Linked DNA regions of Homo sapiens. The protein of the gene in region 1 interacts with the protein of each later gene in a pairwise test. Each region holds a gene or a part of one and is shown in the gene's direction. Other genes may lie near its edges.

Region 1 (3,754 bases):
TTAGTGTGTTTGACAGCTTGTTTCTCTAATATATTTACATGATACACACATTTTTATACCCAGGAAAGATCAAGCACACAAAATGATGACCCATCTCCTAATCTGTAAGAGATGCTGCTGGCAATAAGTAATAAAATACTAAGTATAGGTAACTCTCCTCCTCGGTTCTCAGTTTCTTTGTATACAAAATAGGCAGGGACTAGATGATTTTGGGCTCTTCCAGTTCTAATGCCTTAAGACTCCATGGAAGTAGTGGGTATCTATTCACATTACAAAGGTCTTTCTTTATAAAGAATCCTCTTCAGATTCTCTCTTTAGTGCATTTAAACTATGACTTGCTTTACCAAAATCTGGTTACTGTATTTTTATTGGTAGCTAACATTTACTGACCAAGTTCAATATGCTAGGCACACATAAAATGCCTCATATGGATTACTGGACTTAATCATCCCAGTAACTTTCTGAGGTAGATACCAATATTGTCCCCATGTTATAGATAGGTAAATTGACTCCAAGGCTATCTAACCTGCCTCAGGTCACTGAATTAGGGAATGTCAACACTGGAATTCAAACTCACTTCAATTCAATCTGAATCCAGAACACATATATTAATCCTGCATCTCCCAGACTGGCTTCCTGTATCAGGAGGTGCTCAGGGTTTCTTCTTTAGTTGAACCATAGTAGTCTGTGGCTCCTTGTCTTCACAAATGGGGTTACTGCTTGGAGATAGGATGGTTCCTTTGATTATTTCAACTTAATTTCTGGGATATAATGTGGTGATATTTTCATTAAGAAGTAATTTTTCACCTTCCCCTATATGAGTAACAATGGATTTCACTAGTTATCTTGAGTCACTTGCGAATGATTTGGTGAGCCAAAAAGGGTACAAAATTGCTGTGAAATTCTAATTTGGTTCTTTATGTCTATTTCTTAACTAAGTCTAACAGCATACACAGCAAAACTGTACATTATTTTGCAACAGATTAAGGTGAAAAAAGCTACATACAGGAAACCATGTAAGATTAATATATATCACACTTTCTAGAAACTTTTATATCTATTATTTTCACTTTCACAAGAACCGTATGAAGTAGGCAAGACAGGAATTATTTACCCATTTTGCAAATGCAGAGAGTCATAGAAAAGGGAGGTGACTTGCCCTGGGCCACTGAGCTGGTTGGGGCCTAGATTGTGTTCTTTCTACACTAGGCTACCTCCATCTGTAAAAAGGAACATCGGATCCAGACACTTCCTGGCAGATAGAACCAAAAGAGTGCTGACTAGAGGCTGTGCCATGCCAGGCTGTGGTCAGAGAGTTTCCCTGTATAAATAGCAACCTATGCTAGGGGTTGCTAGCACCAGCCATTTCCCCTACTCACACCTGTGCAGTGTGATAAAGATAGTAGAATTAGCCTGCAGTTGTGGTCCAACCAGATAAAACTTTTAGGCGGGAAGTCAAGTGACAGGCAAACTTGTGTGTGTGGTTTTTTTTTTTAAGTGTTAGATGTTTTTGATATTTTAAAAAAGCATCTAGGCTGCTTGTGGAAGTCAGACCAAAATAGCAGGAAGGTATTGCAGCAAGATGGATTTGGGAAAGGACCAATCTCATTTGAAGCACCATCAGACACCTGACCCTCATCAAGAAGAGAACCATTCTCCAGGTAATGAAAAATACCTTAAGAGCTGGTGGCTGTTGAGAAGAATTCGGGGTATGATAATTTTCTCTTTTCAATGGATCTGGCCAAAAAAAAAAAAAAAGGAAATAAATGAAAGCTAATGAGACTAGTTCATCCAATAATTTCATTCGATGGCTGTGGTAAAACAAGTGGATTCATACATTTCTATGGCAGCACAAATTTGGTCTAACGTTTGGAAAGAGATCTGGCAATAAGTGGTGAGAGCTATAATACTGCTTATTCTTTTGACTCACTAATCTCAGTCCTTGGATCTATCCTAAAGCAACATTTCTCAAAATGTTTTGTGGAAACTTAGGCCTTGAGATACCTTAAGACATTGTTTTAAATTTTTTTTGCTACATGGATCTCTTTGGCATTCTGATGAACCCAGAGACTCCTTCTTTGAATAAAATTTTTAAAGGCATAAAATTAAATATATAAGACTAGAAAGGGAATAATTACATTAAGATACAAATATCAAAATAAAAAATTATTATATAGTAATATATATGATTATTTATAGATTACAATATCCAGTGGTGGGTCTAATAATAGTATCAAGTCAAATAAGTCATAGCCAGTAGGTGATATTTTAAGGTATCTGCAACAACTATAATGTGATAAAAAAATATGTGATTTCTTTATAGGGACCAAGTCATATGCTGAGGGGGAGGGAGAGCATCAGGAAGAATAGATAATAGATGCTGGGCTTAATACCTAGGTGATGGGATGATCTGCACAGCAAACCACCATGGCACATGTATACCTATGTAACAAACCTGCATATCCTGCACATGAACCCCTGAACTTAAAATAAAAGTTGAAAAAAAAGTCATATACTGCCAAAACTACTGTGGTTTGTTATCTACATTCATAATTGAAGGAACTGTCAATTTTAATTAGAGGTTGGTAAAAATAAAGATATAATTTTTCCTATTAAGAACCCTTATCCCAAGAACAAGAGGCACCATGGTTCAAGGGGCATGCTCTATTCTTTAGAGGTCCCAGTGTGGATTTGTATCACTTCACAGGCTCTAGGAAGCTCTGCATCAAAGACTCATCAATTTTTCTCAACCTTAGACAGCAGCAGAAACTTTTTTGATCAAACCCTTAATTTTCCAAAGAACTTGAAAAAACACCGTTCTAAGGAAAAAATACCAAAGAAAAGCTATATGCAATGAATATGCTTATTATAATTTGATATACAAGGCAAAGATAACTAGCAACAATCTAAATGCTCAATCCAAGAGGAATGATTGGGTAAATGAGAGTACATCAACTAGACTATGTATCACATTGTCATTAAAATTATCATTATGAAGACTACGTCATGGAAAATAGTTCTAATATAACGCTAGCTTAATAAAAAGATTAAAATTGTGGTATGCTATTCTTACAACTTTGTGTAATATAAAGACTGGATAGAAGTGAGGAATAAAATGAAAACAAGTTATCATGTTAAAGACAGCAAAATATGGCTACTTTTTTCATTATTTGTACAATATATAAAATTACTTTGAAGAAATTAATAGGTTGGTAGCACACTTATGTACAAATACTATGTAGGAGTAGGTCTCTGACCTTTTCATTCAAAAACATTTGCTGAATGTCTGCTTCCAGGCTTTCTCTGGAGATACAAGGATAAATGAGATGCAGTCCTTGTCCTCAAAAAGCTAGGAGAAAAACCTAGAACAGAGACTCTGCCACTTGGCTACAGGACTTTTGCTGATAGACACCACAGTTCATCACTTTTTCTAATCACTTTCATTTTATTACAGAAGTCATTGGAACCTGGAGTTTGAGAAACAGAGAACTACTTAGAAAAAGAAAAGCTGAAGTGCATGAAAAGGAAACATCACAATGGCTATTTGGGTATGGTAGCATCACAAGGGAAAGGGAACTAATATATTTATTGAGGATGTTATGCATAAAGTAGTGCTGTGCACTTTACACACTGTATTTTATCTTTCCAACAATCCTGTAAATCAGACATGGTTATCCCTATTTTACAGAAAAACAGAGACTAAGCCTCCAGTGAGTTACACCTCTTGCCTAAAGTCACACACACAGCTGGTAAA
Region 2 (3,654 bases), on another chromosome or scaffold:
CCCAGTCATTCTTAATGAAGGTGACTGCATATATCTTGTTCCATTAATGCATGTTGTATTTTTAAAATAGAGCCGATCCCAGTTTCTGATCTCCGTGTTGCCCTCACGGGTGTGAGGAAGGCTGCTCTCTCCTGGAGCAATGGCAATGGCACTGCCTCCTGCCGGGTTCTTCTTGAAAGCATTGGAAGCCATGAGGAGTTGACTCAAGACTCAAGACTTCAGGTCAATATCTCGGGCCTGAAGCCAGGGGTTCAATACAACATCAACCCGTATCTTCTACAATCAAATAAGACAAAGGGAGACCCCTTGGGCACAGAAGGTGGCTTGGGTGAGTTACAAAGGGTACCTTCCGTCTCCCTTACTGGTTCTTACTTTCAGTAACTAAATGTTCTAAAAAATAAATTGCTCTTCCATGTGTATGGAGATTTAGAATTTATAAAGGGCTTTTCCTCCACATTTTAGTTTGATCCCCCACCTGCATGAGGAAGGAAGGAAACGTGTTCTGATTTTACAGGGGAACACATTGGGGCTGAGAACAGCAATAGGAATTGAAACTTTTTAGAGTCTGGCACCCAGGAAAGTTAGAGGCCCCTTTAGCTTTCTATCTAACAGCTGTGTCAACCCAAGTTGGGCCTTCAGAGGAACTTATCACGTCTGCTGGTTGATGTTGGCGTTGTCATTTGCAGGTTTCATAGCATTTGCAGAGGATCCCCAGGATAACTCCATGAGGAGGACAGGCACTTAATCTGCATTTTATACTTAAGAAAACAGAGCTACAGAGTGGGTGTCAGGATCCTTGCTTGCGAGTGACAGAAACCAGACTTTGGATAGCTCAGACAGAAGGAACAATTTATTGGCTCATGTGGATTTTCCTGCTAGCGGGAGGCCTTAGAGAAAGAGATGAGGCAATTCTCATCCCTCCCTCTTGCTTCTTTCTGTTCATCAGCTTCATTCTCAGAGCAGCTCCCTCTGCACACTTAAGGAGCCCAGCTGCTCCTGTTTCACACCCTGCAGCTGCCCCACCAGCCAGCTGCCCCACCAACCAGGGTCTGGTCCAGGGAAACGTGTCTTGAGTGGGGTCTGATTAGCAAAGTCTGCTTCACAGAGCTGTCCCTGGAAATCCATGCTGGGACAGGAGAAGATAACAACCCAAAGAAGGGAGAATGACCTGAAATAAGCAGAGTTTGAAAGAGAAGCACCAGATATCTGTGGTGCTACTGGAATAACAGTACAAATGGAGATGGAGCTATCAGGCCTTTTTATGGGGCTGCCTCTCTCTCTGGAGGAGGAAGGGAGCAGATATTGATGGAGCACCAACTGTGGCCACTGTCTGATGGCCATCTGATGGGGTTGGGGCTCCGAAGGAAAATGGGGGATGTGTCCCTCTTGTGGTTGATGTCTTTTTGTCTCCTGTGCTTGAAACAGATGCCAGCAATACAGAGAGAAGCCGGGCAGGGAGCCCCACCGCCCCTGTGCATGATGAGTCCCTCGTGGGACCTGTGGACCCATCCTCCGGCCAGCAGTCCCGAGACACGGAAGTCCTGCTTGTCGGGTTAGAGCCTGGCACCCGATACAATGCCACCGTTTATTCCCAAGCAGCGAATGGCACAGAAGGACAGCCCCAGGCCATAGAGTTCAGGACAAGTAGGTTGAACTTTGTAAAATGGTGGCAGCCAGAGTTTCCTAGCACAATGTTCTGTCTCCTGTGATTCTGATTCTGAGTGATTTCTTGCATAACAGCTAGTTTTGATGTCAGAGGGAGCTTCCTGGAGGAGATTTTGGACAGAGCAGATCTGCTCAGTTTCTTCTTAACTCCATGGGCAGTGCACATCTCTCATTAAGTGAAATCAAATACATGGAGCAGCCCCTGTGTGCGGGCACCAGGCACTGCCTCACGCCATCTTTCACAGCTTTGCGTGGTGGCTGATGAGACAAACTGGCATCATACTTTCCTCTTAAAAACAAATAATCATTGCTTGTTTTTCCTTTGCTTTGAGTTAAGAAAGTTATGAAAGTGAGTTTCATTTTTTCACCCGCCTTGTAATTCATACCGATCTTTCTGTTGAAATGCTTGTTGACATGCACATTGCTGCTTCCTCGCTATAATTTATCAGCACTTTCACTCTGTAAGTTCACCAATATTTGGAGGCTTTGGTGAAAAGAGCGGGAGGTGAACACATTTGGGAATACTTAGAGGTAGTTACTGGCCAGGCTGTGTTACTTGTACAGGGCTAGAAGTTTTGGCAAGACATTGGTGAGAAGCCATTCTGTAAGGAATGACAGTTTTTCCTGGTATCCATGTTGAAGGAGGGTCCATTTGTGTCCTTCCTTCCCTTTGTACTTGTTTTGCTAATGTGGGAGTGGGTGGGGAGGATGCGGCCGTAGGACAGGCTGCCTGACCTCATGGGGCCTGCAGTGACCTGGCAGGAGTGGCAGGTGGGAGGCTCTCGGGTGAGGAGGGCTTGGATTCCAGAGGGTGGGTTAGTTGGAGGAGGAGGAAGGGGCTCCTATGTGGGTGCGGTTGGCAGTGGTGGGGTGTCCTGCACATGGTAAGCTTGCGTGAGAGAGTGAAAGGGGCTGAAATCTGGTCTGTGTGCCCTGCGTCAAGCCATGCACCCAGGGCTGGGTCCAGCCAGGGGAAGGTCCCTTTGACTGATTTGCTAAAAGGACTTGTAGATTTGTGTGGGCCTGGGGTCCCTGCTTTTTAAAGCAGTTTGAGCAAAAGCAAAGTAGTAGTGATTACATCTCAGGCTCTTGGTGGTGTGAATTCACACACATCCTGCTTTGGGTTGAACTGTCTTCATGCTTGGTAAATAATCATTATAGTAGCCTTTCCCTCTCTATAAGGGGCGAGTGTGTGTGTATAGATAAGTCTTAGTCAGTTTGGGCTGCTGTAACAAATGGCCATGCACTAGATGGCGTAAACAATGAACATTTATTTCTCAGGGTTCTGGAGGCTGGAAGTCTGAGACTGGGGTGCAGCATGCCTGGGCTCCGGGTGAAACACCCTCTTCCTCTTCCAGGTTGCAGACTCCCTGGGTCTTCACGTGGTTGAAGGGGTGAGGGCGTGGTTTCTCTCCAGCCTTTTTGATAAGGGCACTAATACCATTCAGGAGGGAGGTAATTCATGATCTAATTACCTCCCAAAAGCCCCGCCTCCTAAAAGCATCACATCAGGGGTTACAATTTCAACATAGGAATTTTATGGGGACAGAAACATTCAGTCTGTTGCAACACACACACACACACACACACACACACACACACACACACACACAGATAAACACACATTTCCACCCACCCCAGAGCACCCTGCACTTTTCAAGTGACTAGTTAGGTGGGGCAGGGTTAAGGAAACCATCAGAGGACATTGTTGAGGCACCCAAGACACGACAGAAAGCCACCTCTAGGGCTGAAGGGCTAGAGGAGGACAGGGTGTTTCTGGAGCCCAGTGAGAGCTGGGGCAGTGGTGGACACAGCTGTGTCAGGACAGGAGGCCCAGAGCAGGAGGTGATGGAGGAAGGCACTGACTCCTTTCTCCTGTGGCCCTTCAGGGGCCTGCCCATTGGCTCATAGTGGAACCCGGTCACAGCCCATGTGGCAAGACCCCCCATGATGCCTTGCACAAGGTCAGCCTCCTGGGCCCAGAGCAGG

The links. Proteins that work in one complex are often made in the same cells at the same time.
Region 2: the proteins of HEMGN (region 1) and PTPRJ interact in a two-hybrid assay, tested with the Homo sapiens proteins (one large-scale study listed by BioGRID and IntAct).

What each region holds. Positions count from the first base shown.
Region 1 is NC_000009.12:97,935,965-97,939,718, reverse strand, and holds the start of HEMGN (hemogen), read left to right. Parts: upstream 1-1,546; 5' UTR 1,547-1,582; coding exon 1,583-1,661; intron 1,662-3,454; coding exon 3,455-3,548; intron 3,549-3,754. UniProt on the Homo sapiens protein: Regulates the proliferation and differentiation of hematopoietic cells. Overexpression block the TPA-induced megakaryocytic differentiation in the K562 cell model. May also prevent cell apoptosis through the activation of the nuclear factor-kappa B (NF-kB).
Region 2 is NC_000011.10:48,123,543-48,127,196, forward strand, and holds part of PTPRJ (receptor-type tyrosine-protein phosphatase eta isoform 1 precursor), read left to right. Parts: intron 1-70; coding exon 71-328; intron 329-1,425; coding exon 1,426-1,644; intron 1,645-3,654. UniProt on the Homo sapiens protein: Tyrosine phosphatase which dephosphorylates or contributes to the dephosphorylation of CTNND1, FLT3, PDGFRB, MET, KDR, LYN, SRC, MAPK1, MAPK3, EGFR, TJP1, OCLN, PIK3R1 and PIK3R2. Plays a role in cell adhesion, migration, proliferation and differentiation.